Linked DNA regions of Homo sapiens: all the other regions are linked to region 1. Evidence: fine-mapped expression QTL. A gene starts in region 1. Each other region holds a variant in brackets. All regions are shown on one strand. Distances are from middle to middle.

Evidence for each region. PIP is the estimated chance that this variant, and not a neighbour inherited with it, causes the effect.
Region 2: its variant is fine-mapped to the expression of TSPAN5-DT in whole blood (INTERVAL, PIP above 0.99).
Region 3: its variant is fine-mapped to the expression of TSPAN5-DT in whole blood (TOPMed, PIP above 0.99).

Annotation. Positions count from the first base shown.
Region 1 is chr4:98,652,576-98,663,511 of GRCh38, forward strand. TSPAN5-DT (TSPAN5 divergent transcript) reads left to right here and starts at 6,327. Exons shown (of 3, transcript NR_148380.1): 1 at 6,327-6,447; 2 at 8,223-8,351; 3 at 10,415-10,936. It overlaps TSPAN5 (tetraspanin 5), which reads right to left and starts at 6,036. Exons shown (of 8, transcript NM_005723.4): 1 at 5,571-6,036. The coding sequence starts at 5,651. LOC112267901 (a long non-coding RNA gene) reads left to right here and starts at 6,148. Exons shown (of 3, transcript XR_939016.3): 1 at 6,148-6,297. RefSeq lists an enhancer at 694-1,893 and silencers at 5,601-5,760, 6,014-6,193.
Region 2 is chr4:98,789,475-98,800,410 of GRCh38, forward strand. All of the region lies in intron 2 of LOC105377343 (a long non-coding RNA gene), which reads right to left. Among named protein-coding and RNA genes, the nearest start is that of EIF4E, 130 kb to the right of the region's middle. The variant A/T (reference allele first, on the strand shown) is at 5,431.
Region 3 is chr4:98,763,305-98,774,240 of GRCh38, forward strand. No RefSeq gene overlaps it. Among named protein-coding and RNA genes, the nearest start is that of TSPAN5-DT, 110 kb to the left of the region's middle. The variant T/C (reference allele first, on the strand shown) is at 5,339.

The sequences.
Region 1 (10,936 bases):
GGGCTATCATTACGGAAGAGACTTAACACTCTGAAACTGAACCTTGACATGCTCTTCAACACCTCAAAAGTTACTCCACATCTCTGTACTCCAATTTCTTCATCTGTCACAAAGATATAATATTCTTGGAAGACTCTTTGGGGTGCTTACAAGAAAAACATCATTAGTGAAAAGTTCTGTTAAAAATGCAGATTGCTTTCACCTTTTGCCAGGGACTACCTATTACTGTGGACATTAAAACAAAGTGACCCATCTAAATGAGTGCAACATTTTGGCAAGTTTATGGTGGTTGAAACATGATTTGGTTTTCCAACTTCTCCCCACTTGGCTTCATTTCAATCTGCGGAGTATATCAAGTGAGAATGCTTCTGCGCCTTCATACTGCCCCACAGAGGGAGTGGCCACACTAAGCAAGCCTATATTCAATTACTTTCCCCACTTTATACCTTTCTTACACTTTTCCCATATGACACTTTCATAACCATATTTAGCTTTCTTCCTACCATCTCCCTGTAATTCAAAACGCAATTTAGATTCCCATATGGTTGCCATCGAAGCTAACAGATGTCTAGCAAATTAAAACAAAAATTATGACTTATAAACTGCTGATGTATCATCATTCCAGAACATCTTGCAATTTATAGTGAATCATAAGATAAAGCTTCCTACTTGATGCCCCCCCTCCCCCACCGCCCCAAGGTTTCCTGAGTCTCCCTCCTCTCTGAATTAAGCCCTGTGGAAGCAAATTAGAGGCAAGATCCTGCCATCAACCCTGGATAAACTTGCACTTAAAGACACAAGGTAATATCTGAAAGCATATCAAAAGAGAAAGTTGGCCTCAAGTAACTGAGGCTTTTCTAATCCTTTGTAGCAAAGAAAACAGAAAAATGACTTGGTTCTCCCAAATCATTCCACCGTTTCCATTGAGTTCTTTCCTAACAAGTCACTATAAAATCTATTGAATCCATTTGCCTCATCTTCTTGGCAGATCTTAAGGGTATTATCATTACCTAGTAGTAATGATGCCAAAGTACTAGACTAAGGCATTCTAGAAGTTCTATAGCCCTGTATGGAACCAGTATAAAATCTGGAGACAACAACAGTAATGATATTCACTATTTGTTAAATATTGAGATATTATGCCGAATAAAACATTATCTCACTGAATCTTTAAAACTACAACACCATTAATGTTATCTTTCCTTTATAAACAAGAAATTAAGGCTCAGTGCCTTAATACAGTAGACTATATTTTTCAAAGATGGCCACAACCTACATGACTTTCTGCAATGTGACCTTGACACTTCTCCATCAAAAGGTGGCTTCTAATTCTTCACCCTTTGAAATTCAGCAGTCTGCATGAGTGCTCTAACCAATGGAATAGATAAAAGTGGCACTGCCAGTTCTAAGTGGAACCTTAACTGGCTGGAAGCTTCTTTAAGACTTAGAGACAGGAAGAAGCCACGTGTAGGTAGGTGCTCCAGTGACAACTCTGGCTAAGCTCCCAGCAAGCATCAGCTTCCAGTCATATGAGTATACCATCTCAGGCATCCTGCCCAGAGGGCCTTCCGGTAAGTCCAACTCCAACTACATCTCACCACAACTGTATGAGACCCCAAGTGAGAACTGTCCAGATGAGCCTGGCCAAATCACAGAACTGTGAACTATAATAATAAACAACTGTGTTTTAAACAACTAAGCTTGGAGGTTATGTAGCAATAAATAACCAGAATATTGAGATCAATTTACTTGCCTGGGAACAGTTAAGTATCCAGAATCCAAAACAGTTAAAAGCCAGAATCCAAAAGGGCAAAACATCTATTAATGATGAGTGATGGGATGTGGTGTTCGGTACCCCAAAGAAATGACTTTAAAACAAAATCCTCTTTCTTCTCCCTCCCCCAAACCCAAAGCAGTCTCAGGGTTTTCTGAGAAATGTCCCAGTACGGTGACACCCTCAATAAAATCAATTCCCTTCTGTCTTGAATTGTTCCAATATATAACAGAGGAAACAAGTTTTCCCCCACCAGCCTGTGATAACTAATGAGAAAGGAATCTGTACAAGATGTTGACTTTGTTACTCAGAATGTCATTACAACTGTTATATAAAAGGATTCAGATTTTATACATGAAGCTGTAATTCTAATAATAAAAATATATTTAATGACTCACAGGACTACATTTGAGATTCACAGTGGGGAGAGAGAAGCACGGACACTATACCAGGAACTGAACAAGCCAAGAAGAAATTAGTGAAAGGTTTTTTGTTTTGCTTTGTTTTGTTTTTTTTGAGACGGAGTCTTGCTCTGTTGCCAGGCTGGAGTACAGTGGTGTGATCTTGCCTCACTGCAATCTCCACCTCCCGGGTTCAAGTGATTCCCCTGCCTCAGCCTCCCGAGTAGCTGGGACTACAGGCACCCGCCAACACACCTGGCTAGTTTTTTGTATTTCAGTAGGGACAGAGTTTCACCATGTTGGCCAGGATGGTCTTGATTTCCTGAACTTGTGATCCGTCCACCTCAGCCTCCCAAAGTGCTGGGATCGCAGGCGTGAGCCACCGCGCCCAGCCTTGGTTTTTTTTTGTTTTTGTTTTTTGTTTTTTGTTTGTTTGTTTTTTATGAAAGGATCTTTGAGGAAGAAATGAAAGTAATAAAACTAGTCTTCAGACAAGTCTCCCTAACAGAAAATGTCTATAATTTATCACGTGTCCTGGTATATACTACTTCTGTTATAAATTAGTGGCCAAACTCTTCTATTTTTCTTCTCCAGCATATTGGAACTCAAGAAACTCATTCTGTGTAAGAACTAGAAAGAACGTTATAACTCATCCACCTCCTTCAATTTAACAGCTGAGAAACTGAGGCCCAGGCAGTTAACTGATGAAGAGCCAAACTGCTGATCAGGAAAAGAACCAAGCTCTCAGTGCTGGTGCCACCATATGTTCAATTTTATTTTACCAGAACTATACCTTTGAATGTCACCAGTGTATGTCAAATGTAGTCTAGCAGTTCAGTGTGAAAATGAAAATTAGGAAACCATGCTGTTGGCAATCTCTTCTTCATAATTGTATGGGAGTAGCACCGAGTCTGCTGTTTTTGGCAATCACAGACAGGTTGGTGACTCTGTAGAGAGCAGAGGTGTGTAACTTTTCAGAAGCAAGCTGCCAAGCTACTGACCCCAGCTTTTCAGTCACTAACATCTTAGTCTGAATTACTTTAACCAAAACCATATGGTTGCCTTTCTGTTGATCATCACTAGAGACCATGGTACAATAAAGCAGGAAATTTAAATATGGGGTAATTTTGAGGCAGAGAGCAGGATAGGAAAGGTATGAGGGAGTATCTGAGAGGAAGGCTTTGGGCACAGAGAGGAGAGGAAGGGAAGGCAAGAGGCAGGGTAAGTGAAGGGCCCTCATAAGGAAGGCACTCACTTAACAATTCTGCCTGGGGCAGCTAGTTTAGTCCCATAGCCTAGGTCTCCTTTCAGGCTTCCCATACTCACCCACCCACCTATGAAGACCTTCACAATCAGAAAACATGCGGCTCTGTTCTGGACCTCTCCAAGCAAGCACTCTGCAATTCTTTGAAGCTCTCTACAATTCCAGGGGTTTTGCTGCAACCTAATCCATAGAAAGGGCTAAATTTGTCTCTATGCACTCCACAGAATTACAGCAAACTGTCAGGGAAACAGACCCAAATCCTTTTATTTCCTTACCACCCCCTGCTAGGAAACGGCAGAGAAAGTCCCTGGGTGCTTTTTGTTGCTGGGTAGCTAAAATGTGCAACTTTTAGAAATGTTCAAGTAGAAACAAGAGGCCTGAACTCACTACCCCAAAAAGAACCAGTCCCAGTTCGGTAGTCCGTGCCTCTCCAAGTCACAAAGTTTCAAGTTCCAATCAAATCAGAATATCTTACTCAAAACCGTGGCTACCCACCACTTTTAAACATTTTCACAAATGGAGAAGGGGCAAAGAAAGAAAATAATTCCTTCTTCCTGTACTTGTAGCAGTGTTTAATTGCAGGGAGGTGGGTGACTGCTCCCGGGAATCATGCACAACACTGGCAAAAAACTGCCTGTGGAATGATCGGATATGACATCCATTCATGTGTCCCCTCATTATCTTTATTAGTCCTGAAGACAGATGACATGCTGACACGGAAAGTGGTCTCCAATCCCTTGCATTTCCCCTCACAAAACATACATGACCAATGCAAGGTATTATAATAGAAAACAGAAAATAAAATAACCTGGTAAGAGTGCGGTACAAAAAAAGAATATGAAGAGCCGTATTGACAACTATTCTCACAGATGTATATACGTACAGCAAACAGCCCAAATTAAAGGAGAATTCAAATAAATACATTCCGTGTTCAGACTGCTGTGGATAATTATTGATCCTGCAGTTGGAGCATTGTTTACCTCACACTGAACAGCAACTTAGAGAACCCCCTACCCAGACAGCCACCATCTTTACTTTCTATGGAAATGCGGGTGCCCACTGAGGAAGAGGATGAGATGGGATGAGAAGGGGAAGAAAAATAACATGGTCTTTGAACCAACGTTTTCCCCTTGTCCTGGAGAACTCTTTGTCTGGCTGCTGAACACGTTTGCCAGATCAAGGAAAAGAATCAAAACAAACAAACAAACAAAAAGAGTAGGCGTCCCAGCCTAATTACAATAGGTTCCCAACACATTGCAGTCCCAAGCAGAGCATCATTTGAATCTTGTGTTAAAGCATTTGCTCTCTCGGTTCCCCAATAAAACATGCCTCGCACACCTTCTCCTTTGCATTTCTACAAAGGTTCCCCCAAACGGCCCGCTCTGTGTCACTCCTTTAAAAATGAGGACGTGGGGCAGGAACACACTGAAATATATGTTGACGGTGACTTATTATCCTGACGATGATATATACATACAAATAAATCCCTCTACCCCGCACCCCCACTGACCAGTCCATTACGCACAGGGAGCGCTTTCCAGCTGAAGAGGAGAGCGTGCAGGAAACGTTATTTACGTGCAATTACAGGACCATATACCACGGCATCTGCATCCTACACAAAGCCCGAGATGGTGCAAGAAGATACACGCTGAGCATGGCACAGACCAGCCGCGGCAACACGGAGCCAAGCCCTCGTCCAATCAGATCGTTGTTAGAAGGTGGACCTCAGGGTCGGCCGTGCCCGATTAGCCTTCCCTATTATGACACCACGCTCTGCCCAACATCTATATCCCACCGAGAGCAAATCCAATTCGTGTGGTTGCTCATTTCTCAAACTGCCGAACCCTTTCTTTTATCTGCATCCCTGCTATTCGTTCCTCAAAAAGCCACCAGAAGGCCTCGGTGCCCCCTTTCCGCCTCGATTTCTCTTTTCACCTCTTCCCATTCCTCGAAAGGATTAAATGTTTATCTCTCCAACGCGCAAGCTGGAAAGGCGGAAGGCGAATGCCTCTATGCTGCTCCGGCAAGCGCCTGCGGGGCTGCGAAAAGTAAAGGCAACGAACAACGTGGGGGAAATCGTCGCGAATCGATCGGCCACAATAGTTGGAATCCCAGGAGCGCTCCAACTTACCCAAAATATGACATTGAAGCCAAATATGAAGTATTTGATGCAACAACTGACTTCAGGACCCTTGTAGTGCTTCCCGGACATCCTCTGGGTTCATGAAGACACTTGCCCCGGCAGCCCGAGTTTGGAGCTCCGAAGCACCGTTGCTCGGAGCAGCCCGGCGGGGAGCAGGAGCTCAGGGACACCGCACGGGGCCGCGGCGCTGGCGGCCTGGGCTCAGCCGCGCGGGGACCGACCGGCGGAGAGCGGCTCCCGCACCTCCAGCCCCTCGCGCGCCGAGGCCGCCGGAGCCGGGGTGGCCGCGAGAAAGCAGGGAAGCCGCGCGCTGCAAGCTCAAGCCTCGCCGACGCTAGCCCCGAACACAAAGCGAGCGCCCGCGTCCGTGCGCCAGGCGGTCGGTCCGTCGGTTCGTCCCCGGGCTTCGGGCAAAGGCGGCCGCGGCAGATGCTGGTGGAGACGCCGCTCGCTTGCTCGCCCGCCCGTTCGCGCGCGCCCTCCCACCCCTCGCTCCGCCCGCCTCTCGCTCCGCCCGCCCGGCCGGCTGCTCCTCCGCCCGCGCCGCCCGCAGCTCCGCCCGCCGCCCAAGCCTTGGCTAGGCGCGCGCGCGCACGGGGTCGGGCGCTCCCGGGCGGCGGTGGCACCACGTAGCCGCCTCCTTCCACCGCTCGCTTTATCCCCGCCCCTTCTCGGGCCAACCCCAAGCGCCGCTGACCCCGAACGTCGCTGCGGGGTAGGTAGGGGGTGGGAGGGTGGAGGACCGCAGGCGAGAGGGAGAAGGAAGGGCGCCCGGGGAGCAGGCTGGCAGAGTGACCGGGATTGATGAGCGGCGCAGCTCTGGAGGGACGCGGGCGAGAGGGTCGCTCCTCGGGGAGAGGGCTGGGTGAGTGAGGACCTGCGAGCCACCCCCGACACCCCTTCCAGGGTAGCCACACTGGCGCCCCCTCCTCCACAACAGGCTTATGTGGCTAGAGAAGATGCGATGCCACTGGACAGGGAAGGAAAGTCGTCGTGGACTTCGCTGAATGGAAAAGGGGGTAGTTGGGGAAGGTGGAGAAAAGAGCCACGGGAAGTGGGAGGAAAGGATGAAGGGATGGGACGTTGAAAAGGAAAGCTTCCTGAATCCCTGTGTGACTCTAACCCAACCTCCCCACCTACCGGAGAAATGGGTTTTATCCTAGAAATGGGGACGAGGAAAAAGAGATGGCTCAAGGGAGTCCTGGCCCGGGATGCGATCCTCGCCCTAGGGTCTATTGCAACCACACAAACCCGGACAGCGCACGCTCCCCCCTACCCCGACAGAATAGTGCCTAAGAAACCTGCTTGCCTCCTAACTCTAGGAAGGAATCCACAACGGATTCCAGGGAGGTCTTCTGGGGAATCTGAATTGGGTTTTTGGATCACGAACCATTAAGCTTTTGAACTCTGGGGAAGAATAGAACAGGTGGCTGGAAATTGTTTTAGAACCCTACCTGAGCAGGTGTGCTCATTAGTTGCTTATCCGCCCTCCTCCTGGAGCACTTTCATAGGTGTTGGCAAAGCAGGTACCAGTATTTCACGGAAGGAGAAGGAAGAACCGCCCAGGACTGTGTATAAATGTCTATGGGAATATTTTTAAGGATTCAAAAGGCTAGAAGGAGGTGAGATCAAAAAATTTTTCCAGCACCACCCAGTGCAACCCGATCCTGGACACAGAAATCTAAAAGATGATACTTAAATACTTGAGTTTGAGAGCCTCTAGTTATAAGGTTTCCTACGTAACAACCTCTCACTTTTCTCAAAAACTGGCTAGTTGACAACCGGCAGTCAAGTTTTGGCTAGTCAAGAAGCTACTTTTTCCTGCAATAAACCACATTTAGAGATAGTACTGGGCTTCAGCAGGATTGAGGCTATATTGAGGTCGCAAGTATGAACGAGGTACCCACAGAGATGGGAGGGCCAGGAGATCCTACTCATTCAGTACCTCAGAAGCTATGACACGGGATAACAGTAGCTTCAGCCCTTTGGATGAAATAATCCTCACTCCCTCAAAAGTGCTCTCTACCCACTCAAAACACAGGCCATACTACCACCAATCTGGTAGACTTCAAAAGTAAGGTCTTTCAGCAGCAGATTTCCTTGTTAACAGGAAGGTACTGACAAGCTTTACCTAAGCCTATTGGAGCTATGTTGTAATTCTGTATATAAATAGAACAGTCGCTGCAGGAATACTGGATGAGTCAGAAGAAAGGTCTGTCCTAAGCTGATGTGACACATTTCAAAAGGACCAGAAATTAGATGCAATTGATGACTGAGTTGATCTCTAAGTGGATTTATCTTTGAAATAAAAATCAGTGGATATCCCATATACCCGACCCCACACCCTCCCCCATTGTCAACATCCCCAACCAAAGTAGCACATTTGCTACAAATAGTGAACCTACATTGCCAGATCATTATCACCCAAAGTCCATAGTTTACATTAGGGTTCACTCTTGGGGCTGTATATTCTATAGGGTTGGACAAATATAGAATAACATGAACCCACCCTCATAGTATCATAGTATCATACAGAGTATTTTCACTGCCCTAAAAGTCCTCTGTACACCACCTATTTATCCCTTCCTCCCCCCAGTCTCTGGCAGCCACTGAAGTTTGACTGTATCCCTGTCTCCTTAGTTTTGCCTTTTCCGGAATGCCATATATAAGGAATCATACAGTATGCAGTCTTTCTTTCAATTTTGCTGTGAAACTAAAACTGCTAAGAAAATAAAGTCTTAAAAAGAAAAATCAATGGAGAAGGGAAAGGTAAGATAACTAATCAGTAATTTGGAGGGGGGGGTGGAAAAACTAATTGAATTATCTCATTTCGTATATCCAAAATAAGTTCTATGAGGATTAAGGAGTTAAATATATTTTAAAGCAGACCAGAAGGAAAAATATTTGTCAAACCTCTGTATAGAAGTATTTCTCAACTTAGAGGCAATAGAAGGAAATAATCAATGGATATGATTGGGTAATATCTTAAACACTTCTACGTGTCCAGCTTTTTTTAGTGTAAGCTAAACCAGAAAAAAAATTGGCAGCAAACATGAAAAATAAAAACCTGAATGTCTATATTATAAGTAGGGCTCATAGAGCTATAGTAAAATATAGAATCGCAGTGGTTGAGTATAAACAGAAAATAAATCATATAAGAAATAAAATATATGGGGAAATTAATCTAGTAATAAATGAAGTATACATTAAAACTAATAAAGATACAAAAATAATGAGCACTGGTTAGCACATACATTGTTGGTGTCCTTATGAAATAATATGTCCATTTGGAAAGCATTTTGGCTGTATATATCAGGTCAGAGTGCTCCTACATTTTGACTCAGCAGTCCCTCTTCTGGGAATCTACCCAAAGAAATACCCCAGCAGATGGAAAAAGTTATACACTGCAAGATGTATATCATAGCATTATTTATATTGAAGACTTGGCCAGAAATTAAAGATCAAAGAGTAGGGGTGATATCCAATTCCTTGTAGTTACTTGGACCACAATGTTCCTTCACATTCTGTGCCTCTGCACATGTCATTTAGAGTTTCTGCCTGGGGCATTCTCCTTGTCTCTTGTCTGTGAGCTGATTTCTCTTATTCTTCACTACTTTTGTTCAATGTCTCGGAGGCTCCTTCTTTATTCCCTCAACACCCGCTGTGTTCTTCCATCCCGGCACTTAAAGGCTGCCTGTAAGAACTTGTTTACCTACCTGTCTCCTCAATCTGCTGTGACTCCTTCTAGGGTGTGACCTAACCCTTGGTAATCTTAGAATCACCAGAGCTCTGCAGATATGGCAGGTGCTTGATAAATATTTATTAAAGGAATGAATGAGTCATTTGCTCACAGTTTTTACAGCTCTTGAAGATACTGCTTATAGAGTATGTGGCAATATATGGATACATTATAATGTTAAATTTTAAAGGCACTATATATGGAATTATCTCCAAGTAATATTGTTAAATTTTAAAAACAAGGAACAAAAACAGTGTACACAGTAGGCTATCATTTTGTGAAAAGATAAGCTCTGTTGGCAAAAGAATATCCATACACATATTTCCTTGTTAATGGGTAGGCTATCTATGGAAGAAAACGAAATAAACTGGTAACAGCGAGTTAGGGTGGAATGGGGGGCAAACTGGGGGACTAAAGATACTGATAGGAAGGAGACATGTTTTATTTTTAAATAACCCCTTTAGTCTGTTTTTGAAATTTGTACCATGTATATGATACACGTTTTGAAAAATAAAGCAGTCTACAAAACGGTATGCAGTTGTATGAAAAAAAGTTAGGAGTTAATTTTTGCCAAATAAGAACAGTTATAAGGCTGGGTGATTTTGTTTTCATGTTTCTGGTTTGCAATTTTTAAGTGTGGTTAAATTGCTTTTACAATTAAGAAGATAAAATTATACATAAAGATGTAAGAAAGTAACTAAGTAATCATATTTATTTCACGCAACTCCTTCACAACTCAATAAATGCTGATCTATTTTAAGGAGAAAAGGAGAAAAATTTTCTGTCTGAATACTGCTAAGGCCACCTCCCTTATAACTCTGAGGTTGAAAAATGGTTAATAAGTTTAACTACTGACAAGTTAATCAGCTCTTCAAGTGGCAGTGAAAACAGGTAAAGCGTGTTCTTCTAATAGTTGCCTGGCTGAGGAGCAAGATATGACAACAGCGTTTTAACCTAAGACACCAAACTTAACGAGCTTGTCTGTCTCCACCTGTGCTTTATTGTTCCTGCCCACCTTCCTGCCTCCCTCCTCTTGGGCTCTGTCATTGTCTGCCTCTCTGCTCCTCTCTGTTTTTCTTTTGCTTCTCTGTAGCCGCCCTGCTGGTTGCCTCCACACCCCTCCTGCCGCCTTCCTCTCAGAACCCTAGCAGCTGTGTTCAGCGTCCCCCTCTTAAAGCAGCCACATGCTCTGGGAAGACTGGCCCTCTGCGTCACATCTGGCAGTCCCATTCCTCTTGCTAATGTGTGGTTCAGGAATGGGCAGGTGGCCCAATTCTGGTCAACAAGCCATGAGAAGAATCTGCTAGAGGTTTCCTTGCATCTAAGAAATGGTCTCTTTCGCCCTTGGACTTGGTTGGGTTTGGATGTGATGCCTCGATCCTCTACAGCCTGATGACAAAGACCACACCAAGGATGGCAGAGTGGAAGGATAAAAAGAACCAGGGCCTTCCAGCCTTTGTTGTATGGCTGACTTAACCAACCTTGAAGGTGGCCTTACTCACGACTTCCTGTCAGATGAGACAAATTTCTTGGTTAAGATACTTTGACAGGGGTTTTCCGTTTCATACAACTGAAAGTATCCTGACTTAAACACCTTTTGAGGTTCTGCCCCAAG
Region 2 (10,936 bases), 140 kb after region 1:
GCTGCAGACAAGAGCAGAGCTTTCAATGGAAATCTTAAACAAGTAGGAGCAAGATCCTGAAGCATTTCTTCAAAGAAGTGTAACAGGAGATGCAACACGGCCTTACCAGTACAATCCTGAAGACAAAGTACAATCACAGCGATGGCTACCAAGAGGTGGAAGAAGTTCAGTCAGAGCAAAAGTGAACTGGTCAGAAGCAAAGGTCATGGCAACAGTTTTTTGGGATGTTCAAGGCATTTTGCTTGTTGGCTTTCTGGACAGCCAGAAAAAATAATAACATCTACTTATTATGAGAGTGTTTTGAGAAAGTTAACCAATGCTATTAGCAGAAAAATGCCCGAGAAAGCTTCACCAGATACTCTTTCTCTACATGATAATGCTCCTGCTCCTTCTTCTCATCAACCAAGGGCAATTTTAGGCATCCACCTTACAGTTCTGATTTGGTTCCTCCTGACTTCTTTTTGTTTCCTAATATTAAAAAATGTGTAAATGGCACCCATTTTTTTTCTCAGTTAATGATGTAAAAAAAGAGACTGCATTGACATGATTAAATTCCCAAGGCCCTGAGTTCTTTAGGGATAGGCTAGTATCATTGTTTACAAAAGTATTTTGAACTTGATGGAGTTTATATTGAGAAATAATATGTATATTTATATTGTATTTTTATCTTTTAACTACATTCTTCCAGGGACATTTTTATTCCCCCTGTTATGTGTAATAAAAAAGTTGAACTCAGGGAGGCAGAGAATAGAATGATGGTTACCAGGGTCTAGAGGCTGAAGTGGAAAAGACTGGGGAAATGCTGGTCAAAGGACACAAAATTAGACAGACAAAAGGAATAAGTTCAAGAGATCCATTGTACAGCATGATTACTATAGTTAATAACAATGTATTGTATACTTACAATTGCTGAGAGTAGATTTAATTGTTCCCACTATAAAAAATGATAAGGGTATAAGGTAATGTATATATTAATTAGCTTGAGTTAGCCATTCTGAAATGTGTACATATATCAAAATATCATATGTGTATACCATAAATATATATATATATAATTTTGTCAATTAAAAAAAGAAAGAATTTTTTTAAAATCTCCAAATGTCTCCACTTCCTCTCTTGTGCTCTGTCATCATCATGAGAACTAGGCAGCTGGGGGATGAAACGCATGTGGCAGACCCAACCATCCCAGTGGAGGCCATCATAGATTACATAATAGCCAGATGATCCCCACACATGTGAATGAGAACAGATGAACCCATCTCTGATCAGAAGAGCTGCCAGATAACCTGTAGACTTGTAAGAAACAATTGCTTTCCACCACAATTATTATGTGAGGTGATTTATTATGCAGCAATAGCTAACTGATACAGATAATAATAATAATTTATTGAGTATTTAGTATATGTCAGGTACTCCTTAATGCTTCTTTCATAAATCATTTCATCCTTGTAATAACTCTGATAGTACTACTACAGACTCCTTTTTAAAATTCATATTATTGAGGCTAAAGTATAAACCTTCAAAATGATTTTTCACATTCTATTAACATCACAAATATCCTGTGCCATAGACAGGGAAGGTATGAGACAAGATCAAGTTGTCTAATGTACGTGCAGTTGGAGTCTTAGATGATGAGGAGAAAGAGAATAAAGTAGAAAAAAATTAGAAGAAATAATGGCCAAACATGTTCCACATTTTGTGAAAAACATCCACCCACAGATTCAAGAAGCTCAACAAATCACTAGCAGGATAAATACAAAGAAAACCACATGTGGGCACACTATAGTCAAACTGCCTGAAAATTGAAGATAAAATCTTTAAATCAGTTAGGAAAAAAAATGATGTTACAGAGGAGCAACTATAAGAATGATACATGGGCCAGGGACAGTGGCTCACGCCTGTAATCCCAGCACTTTGGGAGGCCAAGACAGGCGGATCACTTAAGGTCAGGAGTTCAAGACCAGCCTGGCCAACATGGTGAAACCCCATCTCTACCAAAAATACAAAAAAAATTGGTGGGCATGGTGGCTCACACCTGTAATCCTAGCTACTCAGGAGGCTGAGGTGGGAGAATCACTTGAACTGGGAGGCAGAGGTTGCAGTGAGCTGAGACCGTGCCACTGCACTGCACTCCAGCCTGGGTGACAAAATGAGACTCTTTCTAAAAAAAAAAAAAGAAAATGATATGTAACCTCTAATCAGAAATAATGGAAGCCAGAAGACAATTAAAAGATTTGTTTAAAGTGCTAAAGGGGGAAAAAGTCAATCTTGAACTATATATACAGCCAAAATATACTCCAAAAATGAGGGTGAAATAGATATTGTCAATATATGAAAACTAAGAGAAGTTATTACCCCCAAACATCAATTATAAGAAATGTAGTTAGAGAAAATTCCTCAGGCTGAAAGAAAATGTCACATGGCAACTCAAATTTATAGAAGTAATGAAAAGTACCAAAAATGTAAATACATTGGTAGATATAAAAAGTTACCATTTTTTCGGTAGATATAAAAGGTTATCATTTTTTCCTTTTTTAATTATATTAAAGATAGTTGGCCCTTTAAGGTAAAAAAATTATATTTGGAATTTGCAATTTGCGTAGATGGAAAATATACAACAAAAATAGCACAAAGTACGGGGATATAAATACATTAGAGACTTAAGTTTCAGGTGTCTAACAATTAATTAAATGCCTTTTGATCATGGCTAGAGTTTGCCATTTGCTATGTTGGTAGCCACCCATAGGAAATGAGAAATGTAAGGCATGGTCCTTGACCTTGAGGAACTTACAAGGAGCTGAGAAAGCAATGTATAAAACACAGAAATACCCCAGCAATAATTGAAAGATAATGAGTGGAAAATCAAAACAGCAGACAAAATGGCTAGGATTTCCTAGGGTTCAAAATGCAAAGGAGTGATAAAATTCACTCCTAGTCCATCTGAAGACAATTTATGAATTAGGAGGGGGAAAAAACAGATTTCCTCTCATAGTTAATGTCTGGAAAAGTATGTAAAACTGGACTTCAGCCCCAGTAACACTCAGTTGGGCTCCTATGAGCAGTGAAACACAGTGGCTCTGATCTGAGTGGATGGAGATGTAATTGGAAAGATTTCTAGGATCCTGAGTTGTGCATTAAATAACTTCATAAACATAGACGGTTTTCACATCCAAAGGAAAGAATAACTTCTGCATTAATTTTCAGAAAGAGCTTCAAAGAATCTCAACCTTGGTACATTTTTGGAAGTTTCAGATCCAGCTCAACTAAACTTTGCTTTGTCTTTCTGTTTCAAACAATCTCATGGGAATGTTTTATATTTCTTCTTTAAATTTCATCTTTTTGGAAAAATTATGAAGGCAAGGGTTTGAGTAAAGGAGGAAATTTGAAAGTTTGCGATTCTTAGTTAGTATTGAATATTAAATAGCCCAAAGGCTATTACTAAGCAATAATTCTCTGGAAGAATATTTAAAGGAGTCCTTTTCTCCCTCTCTCATTGAACACACTCATTTATGCATGCACACATATTCCATCTGTGCTACTACAAATATTAATTTAAAACTTGGCAGATGATTATCTTAAAAGATGAAATAAGTCATCAACTGCCAAATTAAGAGTTAACAGCTCCTAGCATTTAAAATTGTGATTAGATTTTTACTGGGTATCGAAAGTTTACTTTAACTTTCAAACTAAAGGGAAATAATATAAATTGTGTCTTCAAGAAAATAAGCAAAATTTTAAAATAATTTTTCTAATTGTGCCCTCAAAATTCATGTTTATTAATTATAAAGCTATTCATTTATACTCTAGAAAACTTTGAAAATAGACACACACACACACACACACACACACACATTGAGAAAAATGGGAAAACCTAAACTTTCATCATCCTCTCAGAAAAAAGTCATGCTAACATTTTTGTTTCCCTTTTGGTCTATCTTTTCTGCATGCACACATACTTTCAGACAACATTAAAACGTTATTTTTAATAACTTTTAGATTATACTGCTTTAACAGTTTTGAATCTTTTCTTTCATTTAACCAATCATTAAAGATCTTTCAAACACATTATTTTAGGTATCTGCCATAATTATGTATCTCTAGTATGGCCTCCAATGATTATTGCCTCCTGGTAATCATGACCTTGTGCTATAGCCTCTTACAATGAATACAGCTAACCTAAGTAACCAATAAGATGCAAGAAATGGTAGCATGAAAGACACTACAGCTTCCACCTTGCTCTTTTTTGGACTATTCTCTATGGGAAAAGCCAGCTGCCATGTTCATGATCACATCCCTATAGAGAGGTCCACATAATGAGGAGTTGAGGCCTCCTGCCAAGAACCAGCACGAATTTGCCAAGTACTTGAGTTTTTCATCATGTAAGAGGATCCTCCCACCTCAGACAAGTTTACACATGACTGCAACCCTGACCAACACCTTGACTGTAACCTCATACAGACATGGAGACAGAACCTCCAAAGTGATCTGCTCCTGGGTTCCCGACTCATAGAAATTGAGTGCATTCGTAAATATTGATTGTTTTAAACATTTAAATTTTAGGATAACTTGTTGTATATGGACAACTAATAATTATTTTGGCACCAAAAGTGGGGTGCTACCATAACAAAACCCTAAAATGTGGGGTGGCTTTACAACAGAGAAAAGAAAACAGTTTGAGAAGTAAAAGAATAAAGTACATTGCACCAGATGAAACTAGGGACAGAGTGCACAGACAGCCTACAGATGGGAGAAAACTTTTGCAAACTATTTTCATTTGATCTGACGAATACATGGAAAATATGAGACACTATTGAAAAACTATTATAAATAATGAAAGAATTTAGTAAGGTGATAAAAGACCAAAGAACTATGTTTCTACCCTAGATGCATTCAAGGGGCTTTGAATAGAGGTCCGACCAAGTGTGTTTATAGGCAGTGGTAGGAGAAACAGAGCTGTTTCTTGATTGTATCCTACTTAATTCACTTATTCAGCGAACAAGTTACACAAATACACACAATAATTTTAGCTGTATAACACTTGAACACTACATGCGTAATCCTGAAATGTGGGCACATGCACTTATAAACCCTAATTATTGTGGGGGAGTTGTTGCTAATTTTGAAACTACAATTAGCAGGATGGAAATAATGGAGCATCTGGTGATTAAAGCAGCGTGTCAACCTGAACCACCTCATTCCTAACCTCAGTCCCTGTAGCTTCTCATATTCTTTCAGATCAGCTTCTCTGAGACTAATCAGCAAGTCTTTGCTGTTTAGCTTCCTGGGCCACTGCTGAGTCACCCTCCCACTCTTAGCAGGCTCTTACTTGTGTGAGTTTCTGCTAAGTTATCCAGTTCCTATCCCTAAGGGTATGTTCAAGCCCTGAAGCCTAACTAGTTTCTTCTTGAAGCAAAAATTTGCATGTTGTTA[A/T]CTCTCAACTACTTATGGTTACAGGTCTCAGGAACAGGTGGATCTTGTTGCTGAACCACAAACTAGATTCTGCCTATGAAATTTACCTGCTCTACCACATCTATTAGCAAGTGATAGAGCTAATCAGGATGTGTTGCCTTTGCTTGCTCTATCGCACATTCCCTGACAAAGATATCAATGACAATGGAAAGGGATAACCTGGAGGAGGGAATAAGAAGACAGTAGGGTCCGACAAGTGAACAGCAATTCTTTGGACCCACAGGGACTGTCAGTAATCTCACCAGGCACTTTTAGGGTATATCTCCAGGCTCAGAGCCCTTGCAGTGATGTTTTATACACATTTGGCCTTCCTGCCATGTTTGACAAAAATCCCTAAGGCTAAAGTGCATTGAAACATAGGAATATATTGGTGTGTCCCTTTCTGCAGTCTTCCCAGACTTTGGAAAGATGAATATGACTGTCACTAAGTGGAGACTCTGCAATCCCCACGCAGAGTTGGCATGGGGGCACTGGTGATGAGCAAAAGGATAGGGATCTTCAAGTGACTTTTTAAGCACACAAAGAGAGTAGGTGGTTCTTCATAGGCAAAGGAGACAAATTGCCGGAAGCCAAAAGGTAGACAGTTGCAGTAATCTGTGTGCTTTCTCAGAAATGAAATACAGAGATCCTACCCTTCCATTTCGTCAAGTAAAAGTGAGGCTTGTGAGAATCTGTCATCCTTTGCTTGGAAACTCTATGCTGAAGCATGTGCCATGTTTACTCTCAGTAAACTGCATCCTAGGCCTATAGAGAAGAGAGCAACCAACTATTAAATGGTTAGAAAGAGAAAAAACATGAGAAAGTTATCTTCAGCATTCCCTCATTTATGAAGCTATTGAAATAGCACATCCTGGAATATGCAGACTAAATTTTCCATCCTGGTTTCATAACACTTTACAGTCTCTCCATTTATCTCATGAGATATTAAGGAACTCACAAAACTGATTTACAATTAATTTTATTTCAAATGAATATATAGCATATCACATTTGATGAATCAGAAAGAGGAAATTTGAAAGACAGTAAAAATAGTATGTTGTGAACTTAAAAAGAAGTTGAAAATCCTGTCTCTATAGATAGTTCTGGCAAAATAAATGCATATAGAGCAAAAGAGTGAGTACATCAGTGTCCTTTTGGAAAGTCGGTGACACTCAGAATGCTTTGGGGGCTTAACCTTGATTCATATGGAATTTGAAAAGCCCATGTCTCACCTCAGGATTCAGTTTGATTCAGCCTTTACTATGTCCCTCACACTGAGCTAGGCACTAGTGATTCAAAGAGAAATGGCACCCACCTGCCCAAGGAAGAGTCTAGAAGATGGCATTTTTGCTATCCTACCAGCAAAAAGAAACAAGGGACCAAGTCAGTTTAGCAAACACTATTGTGAGCTGACTGTAAGGCTCTATGCAAAGCCCTGATAAACCCCCAAATAATGCCAAGCAGCAAATGACTTTTTAAAGCCATATTACATATTGACTTTGTAATGCATAATGGGCATCTGGGCACAGAAGATTTACTTCCCTAATTATGTGTTACTTATGCTAATATTAAAATTAGCCTGTATTCCCTAATCACCTTCAGAGGAAGAAGTGGCTTTAGAAGCATGCTGGGCAACAGATTAAAAAGGATTGAAAATACCTAAGTGTGAAAAATTTTATAATAAAAGTTAACACCCATGAGCTTTTAAAGATAAAACATGGCTTCTCTTTCCACTCACTATTCTTTCTTCTTCATATCTTTTTTCTTCTTTTTTTGTGAAATTATATGTGACTCCTTAAAAGTATGAAAAACGTTTGCTGCAATCTTTATAAAACCGTGGATTATGGAAGGAGCCCCCACTAAGGGTTTAGATATTGTACTAAGTATGTTACGTAAATTATCTCTTTTAATCTTCCCTAGAGCTGTGTGAAAAAGAGATTGTTATCATAAGTTTAGAGATGAGGAAACTGAAGCTCAAAAAGTATTTACATAACCTATAAAAGATCAAACCAGAATTTAAATATTAGTCCATCAACTTTAAGACTTATGCCTTTCTACTATCCAATGCACTCTAACCTTTAATATCCCACTGTACCAGTAGCCAATAGAGAAATGGGCAAAGGAGAGAAATCCACCGTTCACAGGAAAGGAAATACAAATGGCCCTTAAACATATTTTGTAGATGTTCAAATGGGCTCATAGGAAATGCAAAATAAAACTTCATCTGTCAAAATAGCCGAGAGAAAAACCATTTGGCATCACGCTGTGTTGGCAAGGGTGTGGGGAAAAAGCCTTGCTCATTCGTTGCTGGTGAGAGTAAAAGATTGACGCAACTGCGTTAGAGGGAAATTTGCCAATTCCTATCAAAATTACCCTTCTATAATTTTATCCTTCAAGTATATATTTGCACTTGTGAGATATGACGTGTGCACAAGATTATTCATTGCAATGTGGTTTATAACAGGAAAGGATTGAAACAACCTGATGTTCATTAACAGGCTTACAAATTATGTTCATCTATACAAAGAATTGTATGCAACCATTACAAAATGAGAATTATTGTTAATGTAATTTGTTAAGTGAAAAAATGAAGGTGCAGAACAGCAAGTGCTATGTGTTCCCATTTGTGTAAAGGGAAAAGTATGCACAAGTCTTTGTATGTAACTAGACTATATCTGGGTAGGCTGGGGTGGAAGGGAGACATTGCTTCACACCCTGTGGATCTTTTGAATTTTGAACCATGTAATGTATAACCCCTATTATTTTATTTCGTTAGAGATGAAGGTCTCACTATGTTGCCCAAGCTAGACTTGAACTCCTGGGTTCAAGTGATCCTCCCACCTCAGCCTCCCAAGTATCTAGGACTACAGGCATATGCCACCATGCCCAACTTGTATAGCCAATTTTTAAAAAGTAAAGCTTAAAAATTAAAATGAATGCCAATTACTTCCCTTTGATTTGAGAACACCATATTTAGCTACTGAATAATAGAAGGAGGACAATGATACTCTATTGAGTTGAACCTGAAAGTTGTGCAAATTTTTATGAAATCACCACCAGTTAGCTTTTTCTTTGGACTTTCATGTCTTTGGAACTACTTCTTCCCTAAATTGTTGTTAAGGCTATAAATTGAGCTCTTTACTTCCTTCTTATAACAATGTAACAACAAGAAGGATAATATATAGGAGGTCGGCTACTTGCAAAGCTCTGAGGTTAGAGCTGTGGCTGTATTGTCTCATTTAATCCTCACTATATCCTTAAACGGTGGAAATACCAGCCCCACTTTAAAGGTGAGAAAACAGAGACTTAGACAAGTTAGCATTTTCCATTTTAATTGGTTTCCAGGCAGTATGAAGCAACTTTTTTCTAATGCGTATGTCTTTGAGAGGAAAGAGAAGTTTTTTTAAAACGGTCTTTAAAAGCCCACCATGCCATGCAGAAAAAAAAAAAAAAAAAAAGATGCTGACACAAAATTTATTCCACAGAGATTATTCTAAAGGACTCTTCTCACATTCAAGTGCTACTCAGAAAAATAGTCCATGAGTTATATAAGAGATTCTAATATTTTAAAGGAAAAAAAATCCCATAAAAGTTGAGCTGCCAGGCTCCTTTGCCCGTTCAATTTCTCAAGTCTGATGTGTTCAAAGCAAATTCTCTTCTTTTACAACAAAGAGTACTCAATTCTTTTCTTATTGCATTATGATAAAGATCATATAGTACATCCCCTTAGCACTCTTTGCACCAGCCTCAAGCATTTTCTCACAAGTTCTCGAGTCGAGGGTAAAAGCCTGCCATACTAATAGGTATACCAAAAGCTTTCCACTAAAAAATATACTTGATATGTAGTACTGAAGTAAGGACAACAAAATCAATCATTCAGCCCTGGGTTTTATTCCCCTGTCACTGCTTAGGAGGCTTGAATTTAAGTTATAGTGCTTGCAAGAAGTGCGTACAAAACTGACCTTCAATTCCCCATTGTCCCAGCTGATATCTTCATCGCCAGGGTTCTCCAATTTCCTCTCTCTTAGCCATTAAGAAGTGCATCAGACCTCACTATGGAGCTCCCAAGAGAAGTGCTAGTATGTTCTAGTTCAAAAACTAAGGAGATTGAAAATAGTTTTCCCATCAAATTGCCATTTTGGTCTTAAAAGGTTTTCATTGTGTTATGAGGTTTGCGCTAGAATTCAGACATCTTGATAATGAAAACTCTGTGTTGATATTGGTGAACCGAAGTGACTAAACTGCTACTCCCAGGGCAGAATTTGGTGTGCAAAGCACACGACAAAGACAATATAAAAATTATTTTATTTCTTTTTTGGGTTTTGGTTGACATGGATTTTGTTTATTGCCTCCACATAATTCTATCCAATGGGACATATTATAATCATCACCTATTTATGGCAAGGCATTGTTCTAGGCACGGAGGATACAAGCAAATGCAAAACCAAGTCCCTGCACTCAGGACTTTGATATTCTATGAATATTCTACAAGATTCTGCAGAGGTTATACCAGTTATTACATATAACATCTCAGGTAGGTGCTATGTGACATGAGAACAATGAAACCAAATAAGGGGGTAGAAACTAGCAAAGGGTGCATTTCAGTTAGAGTGGCCAGGAGGAGGAGGTGCCACTTTCACAGAGATCTGAGAGAAGCCTGTGGTTATCCAGAGAAAGAGACTCCAGTGCACAGGGAACACCAAACTCAAGGCCCTGAGACAGGAGTGGGTTTGGCAGAAATAGCAGAGGCCTGTGTAGAAGGATAAAGGGAGCAAAGGGGTGAATGGAAGGAGATGGGGTCAGAAAAAATAGCCGAGATCCCTAATGAGCTCTGCAGGTCAAAATAAAAACTTTGGACATTGGGAAGCCATGAAAAGGTTTTGAGCAGATGAGTAACATAATCTGATTTAGATTTTTGAATTTTTAAAATTTATTTTTTTTAATTATTATTTTTAGGCTGGGCATGGTGGCTCACACCTGTAATCCCAGCACTTTGGGAGGTTGAAGCAGGTGAATCGCTTGAGCTCAGGAGTTTGAGACCAGCCTGGGCAACAAAGTGAGATCCCATCTTTATAACATTGCAAAAATTAGCCGGATATGGTGGCATGTGCCTGTGGCCCCAGCTACCTGGGAGGTGGAGGTGGGAGGATGGCTTGAGCCTGGGAGGCAGATGTTGTAGTGAGCCAAGATCATGCCACTGCACTCTAGCCTGGGTGACAGAGCCAGAACCTGTCTCAAAATATGTATAATTATTATTTTTTTTAAAAAAATAGAGACAAGGACTCACTCTGTTGCCCAGGCTAGAGTGCAGTGGCGTGATCATAGCTAACTGTGACCTTGAACTCCTGGCCTCAAGCAATCCTTCCACCTAGCCTCACAAGTAGCTAGGGCTACAGGTGCATACTGCTACACCAGCTAAGTTTTAAATTTTTGGTAGAGATGAGGTCTTTCTATGTTGCCAAGGCTGGTCTCAAACTCCTGGCCTCAA
Region 3 (10,936 bases), 110 kb after region 1:
ATTTCAAAATAATAAGAACTATCTATGACAAACCCACAGCCAATATCATACTGAATGGGCAAAAACTGGAAGCATTCCCTTTGAAAACTGGCACAAGACAGGGATGCCCTCTCTCACCACTCCTATTCAACATAGTGTTGGAAGTTCTGGCCAGGGCAATCAGGCAGGAGAAGGAAATAAAGGGTATTCAATTAGGAAAAGAGGAAGTCAAATTGTCCCTGTTTGCAGACGACATGATTGTATATCTAGAAAACCCCATCATCTCAGCCCAAAATCTCCTTAAGCTGATAAGCAACTTCAGCAAAGTCTCAGGATACAAAATCAATGTAAAAAAAATCACAAGCATTCTTATACACCAACAGCAGACAAACAGAGAGCCAAATCATGAGTGAACTCCCATTCACAATTGCTTCAAAGAGAATAAAATACCTAGGAATCCAACCTACAAGGGATGTGAAGGACCTCTTCAAGGAGAACTACAAACCACTGCTCAAGGAAATAAAAGAGGATACAAACAAATGGAAGAACATTCCATGCTCATGGGTAGGAAGAATCAATATCGTGAAAATGGCCATACTGTCCAAGGTTATTTACAGATTCAATGCCATCCCCATCAAGCTACCAATGCCTTTCTTCACAGAATTGGAAAAAACTACTTTCAAGTTCATATGGAACCAAAAAAGAGCCCGCATCGCCAAGTCAATCCTAAGCCAAAAGAACAAAGCTGGAGGCATCACACTATCTGACTTCAAACTATACTACAAGGCTACAGTAACCAAAACAGCATGGTACTGGTACCAAAACAGAGATATAGATCAATGGAACAGAACAGAGCCCTCAGAAATAACACCACATATCTACAACTATCTGATCTTTGACAAACCTGACAAAAACAAGCAATGGGGAAAGGATTCCCTATTTAATAAATGGTGCTGGGAAAACTGGCTAGCCATATGTAGAAAGCTGAAACTGGATCCCTTCCTTACACCTTATACAAAAATCAATTCAAGATGGATTAAAGATTTAAATGTTAGATCTAAAACCATAAAAACCCTAGAAGAAAACCTAGGCATTACCATTCAGGACATAGGCATGGGCAAGGACTTCATGTCTGAAACACCAAAAGCAATGGCAACAAAAGACAAAATTGACAAATGGGATCTCATTAAACTAAAGAGCTTCTGCACAGCAAAAGAAACTACCATCAGAGTGAACAGGCAACCTACAAAATGGGAGAAAATTTTCGCAACCTACTCATCTGACAAAAGGCTAATATCCAGAATCTACAATGAACTCAAACAAATTTACACGAAAAAAACAAACAACCCCATCAAAAAGTGGGCGAAGGACATGAACAGACACGTCTTTTTACTTTCTTTAAGATGTCTTTCAATAAGCAGAAGATCTTAATTTAGGGCGGTTAGATTTATCAGTGTAGTTAATTTTATTAATCATTTCCTTTATTGTTTGCAATTTGGGGATTTTAACTAAGATATGGTTTCTTACATTGCGTGAGGAAAGTGATCATTTCCTTTTTTTTTTTTAAATCTTGTCTGTCATATTTTTAAAACAGTTTTATTGAAATATATAAATTCCACCCACCCATCCATTCCATCCATCACAATTTGGTGATTTTTAAAAATATATTCACAGAGTTGTACAACTATCATCACAATCTAATTATAGAACATTTGTATTACCCCAAAAAGAAATCCTGTACTCATTGGCAGTCATTCTCCTTTCCTCCTTACTCCCTACCCCTAGTACAGCTCTAGGCAGCCACTAATCTACTTTCTAACTCTATAGCTTTGCCTATTCTGAATATTTTCTATAAATGGAACCATGTAATATGTGATCTTTTGTGATTGTATTCTTTCACTTAGTATATTTTTGAGGTTTACCCATATTGTAGCATGTATCAGCACTTCATTCCTTTTCATGTCTGAATAATATTCCATTGTGTGGATACGTGACATCTTGTTTATCCATTTATCAGTGATGGACACTTAGGTTGTTTCTACTTTTTGCTATTATGTATAATGCCACTATAAACTGTCATGTATACTTTTTTTTGAGCACTTATATTTTCACTTTTCCTGGATATATACCTAGAAGTTTATATAAAGAGTTTATGGTAACTCTATGTTTAGCTTTTTGAGGAACTGTCAAACTCTTTTTCACTGTAGTACATCATTTTCATTCCCACCAGCAATGTATGAGGGTTCCAGATTCTTACATCTTCCTTAATGCTTATTGTTTCTACTTTTTTTTTTATTATAGCCATCCTAGTGTGTGGTGGTGGGAGAGTGAGTTGTATCTTATTATGAGTATAATGTATATTTCTCTAATGACTAAATAATGTTGAACATGTTTTCATGTAGGTTTTTGGCCAGTTGTGTATCTCTTTTGGAAAAATGTCTGTTCAAATCCCACCTATTGGCCGTTTGTATGTCTCTTGGGAAAATATCTGTTTAAATCCCTTGCCCATTTTAAAATTGAGTTATTCTTTTTATTATTGAGTTGTAAGAGTCCTGAGTATATTCTGAATACACAACCTCTATATCTTTTAGTTTGTCTTTTATATTATCTGTTTCTTTTCTTTGCATATATGCTATATCCTATGTAATTTTTTTCAAATCTATCTTCTAGTTCAGTAATTCTCTCTTCAGCTATGTCTAATATGCTGTTTAAGAGATCAAAATATATGCCCAAATAGGTGTTAAATGATCCAAAAGCCATCGTTATATTAAATTATTATAATTGCAATTTAAAACTTATTTTATAGAACTGTTCTGCTTCTTAATACACTTGTCAAAACCACTTGAACAGTACACTTAAAATCTGTACAAACACTGTAAGTTACACCTCAATTTAGAAAAAATCATTAAAAGCTGAGACTCAGAACCTGGTACAAAAATTTAATTAATGGGGTAAATAGGGTGGAGTGGGGAGGATAAAGGCAGAAGTTGTAGTAAGTTTCAGTAAATAATCATTCAATAAATGTTAATTGAAGGATCACTACATGAATGAATAAACAAACAGATTAATTTAACAAAATTGGTTTTCATGTATTGCTTTGTGAGGCCAGTGTCATTATTTTGTAGCCAAAATACTCCTAGAGTTCTAAGCTTTATAATGTTTCTGATTGCTACTAAAGACTAATATCATTGTTTGATAGAGCATTCTGCATTCTTGCAATGTGGAGAGAGCTTTCAGGCCATAAGGACTGGGAAGCACCACTATTGTAACCAAGGAAACTTGTACGAACATCTTTTCTGGAGCACATTTGAGAACATGATTTTCTCTGTGCTAAAGTGATATTTTGGCATTACACCCAGGAGAATGACTTTCAGTCCTGTAGTTTTAGGAGAAAACTATGCCCTTCTGTTGACCAGAGATCAATATGAAGGCAACAGGTGGACCTACCCTTTGAGGCACTTTTCTAAAAATGTGCTCTCAGAACACTGCTAGCCCCTGGCAGATTTACAAGAAAGAGCAATGAGCCTTTCTTTTGTTCAATGTGCCTCTCACATCTGAAGTGTAAAATCATGACTTTCATAGAAAGGCTGTTACAGTCTTAACAACCAATTCATTCTTAAAGCTTCTACTGTGCTTTACCAGAAAAGTCAGCTTATATCTAACATTATTAGTTCTATTATTTCTCCAACTAATAAAAATGGACTACAGGCTCAAAATGGCTTTCTGAAGTGAAAAATATTGATACAAAGTATAATAAATACAATAACTCAGAAAAATGTCATAATTGTAAGTGGTGATTAGAAATTCTGTGCAACTATAGAATGTGAATCTATATGCTCTGGTTCAAGGTGATCTGCAGATGGGATAATTTCATACATGCAACATAAAAAAGAAAATGCAGAAAGAAAGTATGCCCAGTGATAAAACCATTAAATTGAATATTCCTGAACTAATAATCTATTTATCCCTATTCCTTGATACACTGTTCTGAAATTTTGTCAAACAGTTGTGTGAAGCCAGCCAAACTTCCCAAAATTTACAAATAAAGAAGAGTAACCTCTCTAGTAAACTAATGAAATTTTTCTAGCACAATCCCTGAATAATGTATTTCAGGAGGGAACCAATGTATTTTGTCACTAAAGGCAGAGACCAATATTACTAAGACATCATTCAGTTTTATTTCTTACTGCAAAGTTAGACACAGGCCACACTGTTGATAAGAAGTTTATAAAACTTCTATAGATACTAAAATACAGTGCTTGAGAGGAAACAGAATGAAATATTAGGTAATCCCTTATCATATGGAACCACTGGAGTCACATAATGACAACAGCATATAATGTGGACTCACTGTCACACATTCACGTTGTGTGCATGCATGTGTGTATATGTGTGTTCTTTTCAGTTGGATGGAACCTCTGATAAGCTGAGAGTATCCACCTTGGCACACGTCCTATTCATCCATGAACAAGAAGCACTTGATGGCATTAGTTCCACTACTCTCATGTTATTAAAGAGCAGGTGTTCATTATTTGAAAGCTCCTTTGTGAGAGGTGATATGAACTTGGGTCACTGTTGACAGATGTGGACATCTAGGAAGGAGGTTTTTATGAGAGTAAAAGAATTTTTTCCTGACTACCTAGCCTCACATTCTTTTATTTACAGAATTCATTGGCATTCAATACTGTCATCCCTGGTCTTGATTTGATGTTGAACCAAATAATGGAAATTATAAATATGATCAAATTATATCCACCAACAATAAAACTATTTAGCATGCTATGTGGGGGAAAATGGGCAATGACTTAAAAAATTCTACTTCTCACACTGTCATAGGAAAAAATACCCACATGAGACCATATATAGAAATTCAATTTTATTCAAAATACTCATATGAAATCATATATAGAAACACTTCTACATTACATAATACTGTTAATGCCAGGAAGCATTGAGAAGACTGTCTGATTTATTGTCTGATCAAGGACACTTCAGCGAGTAAGAAGGGGCACTTTTATTAATTTTATTGGGATAATAGACATAAACTGGGACTGTCCCAGGGATGTATGCTTACTCTAGTAAAGGGTAGTTCTAACTTCAAGTGACTTGTTCAGTATTATATGCATGATATTATCAACATATTGAATAGCATAAAACTATCACTTCAGGGCTGAAATATAATGATTTTTTAATGTTAAGGATGAGATATCAAGATTTCTTTTAAAAGACTGAATTATGACACAGATGATTTGGTTGCTGTGCATTTCAATTTTTTTCAATCCTAGATGATTTTCTTCACTCACAGGGGAAATAAACTGATCCTACATAATGAACATATTTAAAAATTTAAGAACATGCC[T/C]ACAAAAAAACATGAAGTACTTTGTGAAGCTGAACTCACCCAGATTGGATTTAATAATTCATCCACTACTGTCTCTCAAATTGAAACATCCAAACTCAAGTGCCTAGTTTTGTAACGGAATGGAGAGAGACATCTTACTGCAGTCTCACCATAATTTGCTCAGAAGCATTGGAAAGATCCACCTTGTTAACTATCTCCCAAAATTTTCATTGTGAGTTAAAACAGTTGTAATTTAATAGAACAAAGAGAAACCTGGCCAATGGCTCAAATTATCTGTGGATCCTTCCATGAAAGACGGTAAAAAAAGTATGATCCTTCTTACCAATATGGAACTATTAATAATAATAACAATGAAAAATTAACATATTATAATTTAGTTTTATTTCTTAAATTGTGAGGAATCTTTTGAAAATGTTTGCATTTATTGGTGATTTGTGCAATTTGGACACAGAGTAAATGGTCCACAAATGCTGAAAGTTTTAGAAACTTTTAAAAATGATAGTTCCATGAAAAAGTTAAGGCTTGTAGTTTTGAAACTGCCCTTGCAAAAAGTATGACAGTGAGAGAAATCTTCATAGCTGACTCTGTCTTCCTTCTAACCTCACAAGCTAACCATCTATGTTCATTCCTGGATATAAGCCAAGCTAACTATGGGAAAAGTTTAGTTCATAGTTTAAAACAACGATAAGCATCTCTTCCTAAAATGAACCCCCTTCTTGCTCAGGAACTAGAACTGCCTTTGTAAAATTAACAAATTTGCCACAAGGGTAGAGTTATGTTTCCAGCATCATGTGGCTGGAGGTCATAAGATTTATAACCTCCCCAACTGCGCCTATAGATAGCATCATAATTGTAAAACCAAAGACTGGTGTTTGAGGTATTTTTCAGACCTTGCATTCTGATGGACCAGCTGGAACCATCCAGACCCAGTAACCCATCCCAAGAAACTGACTTAACTGGTCTTGTGACCTCCACCCAAGAACTGACTCAGCTCAGGTGGACAGTTTTGACCCCCTTTGATGTCATCTCCAACCCAACAAATAAGAATTCTTCATTCCCTAGCCACCTGCCCACCAAACTGTCATTGAAAAACCCTAGCCTTGAATTCTCAGAGAGGTGGATTTGAGAATTATCTCCTGTCCTTCTACTAGACTAGCCTGTGATTATTAAACTCTCTTTGCTGCAACACCTGCTGTTCTCAGTGCATTGGTTTTTCTGGACAGCAGGCAAGAAGAACTCATTGGGCTGTAACAGTTTTCACCACTGTGCCTGAGCCTTAATCAATATTGCACAGGGGTGAAAGAATCAGTATTTTTAAGGCCTATGTTGCTCCAACTTATCCTACAAGAATCAACTCAAATATCGTCTTTTACAAACATTTGAATCTTTTCTTTGTGCCAGAATTACAACTATATACAAAAAGCAGCCCTTGTCCTGAGGGAACCTCAGAAAATCTGTGAAATCTCAGCAGCTTAGATGTTATGTTAGAGCAAACCCATGGGGCTCTGAAAACATACAGGCGAGCACTAACCAAAACTTAGAAGAATAAAACCAGGCAGCTAAGACCTGAAGGCTGCAGGGGTGGTGAGGGAAAGCATTTCAGGCATAGGCAACATAATTTGCAACAATCTTGGAAGTGAGAAAGAACAAACTGTAATCATAAACTATAGATAGTTCATTGCGACAGAACATCCAGTATAAGGTGAAAGGGTACCCTAATCAACATGGCTTTGATGAAGCATGTTACAGACCTGCATTCTGTGCACTGTAGGTAGCCAATAAAGGATATTAGCAAGAGAGTGACATGATTATATTATTGCTTTAGAAATATCATTCTGACATGTGGCCTTAGAATTGGAGGGAGGCAAGAAAAGGCAGAGAGACTTGTCAGGAGGCTGTAATAGCAATGGAATGACTTAAAAGTCATGGTAACAATCGTTGTGGAGATGCAAATGAAGGGGAAATTAGGGGATGCCGGTTACTTTTGACATTTTATTTGAGTCTTGAAGGATGAGTAGGATTTTATCAGGCAGGCAAGTAGGGAAGGGAATTCAAGATACAGCAAAGACAAAGGAAACTGAAAAGTAACACACATTCCCAGTCACTCACATATAAAATATATGGAATATGAAGAGAAGTTGGCTTGGGCACAGGTTGGAATGCTACCTGATTTTTTTGAGTAGGAGAGTGATCTGCTCAGATCTGTGTTTTAGAAAAATGAAAAAAGGGTGAAGGATGGATATGGGGGTTAGAGGAGATGCCTCCCTGACAGAGTCTTTTAGGACAGCACAACATCTGGTTATCCCACAGCACCTCTGGTGTCTCCAGAGGAATTCCTTTGATCCCAGGAGATTTGACCACAACGAGGGCAGAAAGGCCAAGACTTGTATAACTACTTGCAATACGTCCTTTCAGGAACCAGGCCAGTGTCTGAATTTTGGGATATTACGTTGGCTCTAGCTCTTTGTAGCAGGCACTGGAAATTGATAACCAGACAGTTCCCCTTCTCATGCCTCTATGTTGTTCAGGTCTCCCTTTACTCTGTGTGATCTGATGAATCTTAGCTGACCTAAGCCAATTACAGTAGTCATGTCCTCCTGAAGTGATTGTTCACTGATAAACATGTGACCCAATTCTGGTGAGTGAGGATACTCTGGAAGGATGAAATTCTGGAAAAAATCTTCTCAGCTCTGTAAAAGAGACTCAAGGAAAAGTTGGTCCCTTTTCTGCTTCTCTCAAGATATGACGCCTGCTGATCCTGCAGTTTATTGGGATTAAGAGGGAAGCTCATCTTGTCTTTGAGAGTTTTCTACTGCATGATATTCGAAATGCTAAAGATGACTGAGGAGGAGAAAGATTAAATCAATCTGAGGGCCAGGCATGGTGGCTTACACCTGTAATCCCAGCACTTTGGGAGGCTGATGCAGGAGCATCACTTGAACCCAGGAGTCTGAGACCAGCCTAGGCAACATAGTGAGACCTCATCTCTACTAAAAATAATAATTTAAAAAATTAGCTGAGCATGATGGTGTGTGCCTGTAGTCCCAGCTATGCCATTGGCTGAGGTGGGAGGAAGACTTGAGCCTGGAGATAGAGACAGCCATGAGCTATGATCACGCCACTGCACTCCAGCCTGGGCGATAGAAAGAGACCCTGTCTCAAACAACAACAAGAAATCTGTGTGCTTGATATCATCGGTGAGCCTCCAAATTAGCCAGATACAGAATCCCCCTGTTTCTTGATGATTTTAACCATTTTGAGTTGCATCTTCTTTTTTTATTCCAGACAAAATCCTCAAACTATTCAGGCCTGTTTTTGCAGTGGAGGTAATAAATGGAAGGTTTAGGAGTAGGGAGGGAAATATTCATCAACACTGGCTATGTCTCTTCAGTTCTTCCACCGTTTTCTTCTTGTTTTCTTCTCTGATAGGAATCAATCACCTGTTACAGAGGCTGCTCTGTGGAGGTAAACACAGGGATAGGTAGAAAGTAAATATTAACTGACTGTGCCTCCCACCCTCGAGTATTGGATTGACTGATTGCAGGAGTGGAAATATCACTCCTGGCTGTTCAAAGGAGCCACCGTGAGCTCCTGTTCTTTGCACAAGAAAAGAGTCATGTGCTAAAAACAGTCATCATATTAATGCAGGTCAATTTCTTCACCTGGAGTGGGATGAAAATGTCACAAAGCACCATTGTGAGCAAAGTTTCCCTTAATCGAGTGGCACAGCTAATTTGCAGCATTCTACCAGCAAGCAACCCCACCCCAACACAAAGAACATTGTGAGAGGCTGTGAGCTGCTGGAACAGGCTCAGATTTACGACTGGGTGCAGGGAAAAAATGACAAAGATAATGGTCCCTGGTCTCTCTTATAGCAAAGCAGGGACTTCAGCAAAGAAAGCTGTTTCTCAGCTTTTGAGTTCTATGACTCATCTTTCCTCACATTTTAATTTTCTGAAATTGGGATGCATCTCACAACTGACATGTAACATTTAATGTGATAGTATTTCTCTTCTCATAAGATGTTCTTGAAGAGATGTGTGTCAACTGAAGTGCCAGAAAAGCGTAGCAGAGCCACAGCCCTCAGGGGTGACAAACTTGCTGTTCAGCCAGTAACTCCCATTAACACAAGGCCCTGTGCTTGTGGAAAGCCTCTTGCTGGGGAATGGTGGCCACTGAGGCATATGGGGACTGGAGGTCTGACCTCTAGATGAGCAGGAGATGTGCAGGAGGCAGCAAGATTGCGGGTCCCTTAAGGGAGAGACCTCCCCTATACATCCCGCTTGGCCTGAAATTCCTGCATTATAAAGTCATTCAATTAGGTCTTAAAAGCTCTTCTTGTCTTTGAGTTGCCTACTGCATGGTTTTCAAATGGAATAGAAATAGCACACTTTTTTCAAGTAAAATCTCATTTCAAATAATAATATATAAATAGATATTCTTAATGGGTTCCTTACTTATTGGTGAATACTTTATTCTTTGCAGAACTTCTGAATCACCTCCTGGAGCCCTGTTTGAAAATTACTACTAAAATCAGCCAGGCATGGTGCCTCATGCCTGTAGTCCCAGCACTTTGGGAGGCTGAGGCGGGCAGATTGCTTGAGCCCAGGAGTTCAAGACCAGCTTGGGCAATATAGGGAGGCCCTGTCTCTACTAAACAAACAAACAAACAAACAAAAATTAGCCGAGCATGGTGGCATGCCTGTCGTCCCAGCAACTCAGGAGGCTGGGGTGGGAGGATCACTTGAGCCCAGGAGGGGGACACGTTGTAGTGAGCTGAGATCTCACAACTGCACTCCAGCCTGGGCAACAAAGCAAAAGCATGTCAAAAAAAGAAAAAAGAAGTAGAGGAAGAGGAAGAAGAAGAAGAAGAAGAAGAAGAGGAAGAGGAAGAAGAAGAAAAATTGCTACTAAAATTAACTGAAAGATACATGAAAATAAAGTCCTGAGGGAAGAATCAGATTACTAGAAATTTTTAATTTGCCTAGTCTAATATCCTCATTTACTAAGGAGGAAACTGAAGCTCAGAGAAGTGAAATGGCTCACTCAAAGGTGATAATTATCCGGGTGGTGACAGAGCTGGGATCAGAACCTGGGCCAGCTGATTTCTGACCCACAGCTCCTGGTAGAACAGCACGGTCCAGCTACAAGAGGCAACTAGTCGGAGGACTCACATCCCTGAGTCACAGGGTTGTCTGGCATTGGCCCTGTGCCCTAGGGGAAACACCTGCCCATCACAGCCATGGGAGCTCATGCAGCCATCTCCTGGCCCTCCTGCCTCTCCTCCTCCCTTGTGCTGTCATTAGGAGGATGACCGCCTTTGCACAGAGGCAGACAACCTCATCTAAATGGACCAAGCAATCTCTCATGAAGGAAGGTTGAATGACCAAGTTCAGAGACGGCAGAACCTTTCCCTGCTTTTCCCTTACCCGGGGTCCTGGGAATGTCCACCCAGAAATGTCCTCTGGGCTTTTTGGATCATCCATCATTTCTTCTCAAGAATCAGCTGTAAGGAATAGTGGAGTCTGCAAGCCTGGTTGGAATCCATGCGCCTTTCTAAGTAATGTGAGCACAATACTTAATGTGGCATCAGTGGCC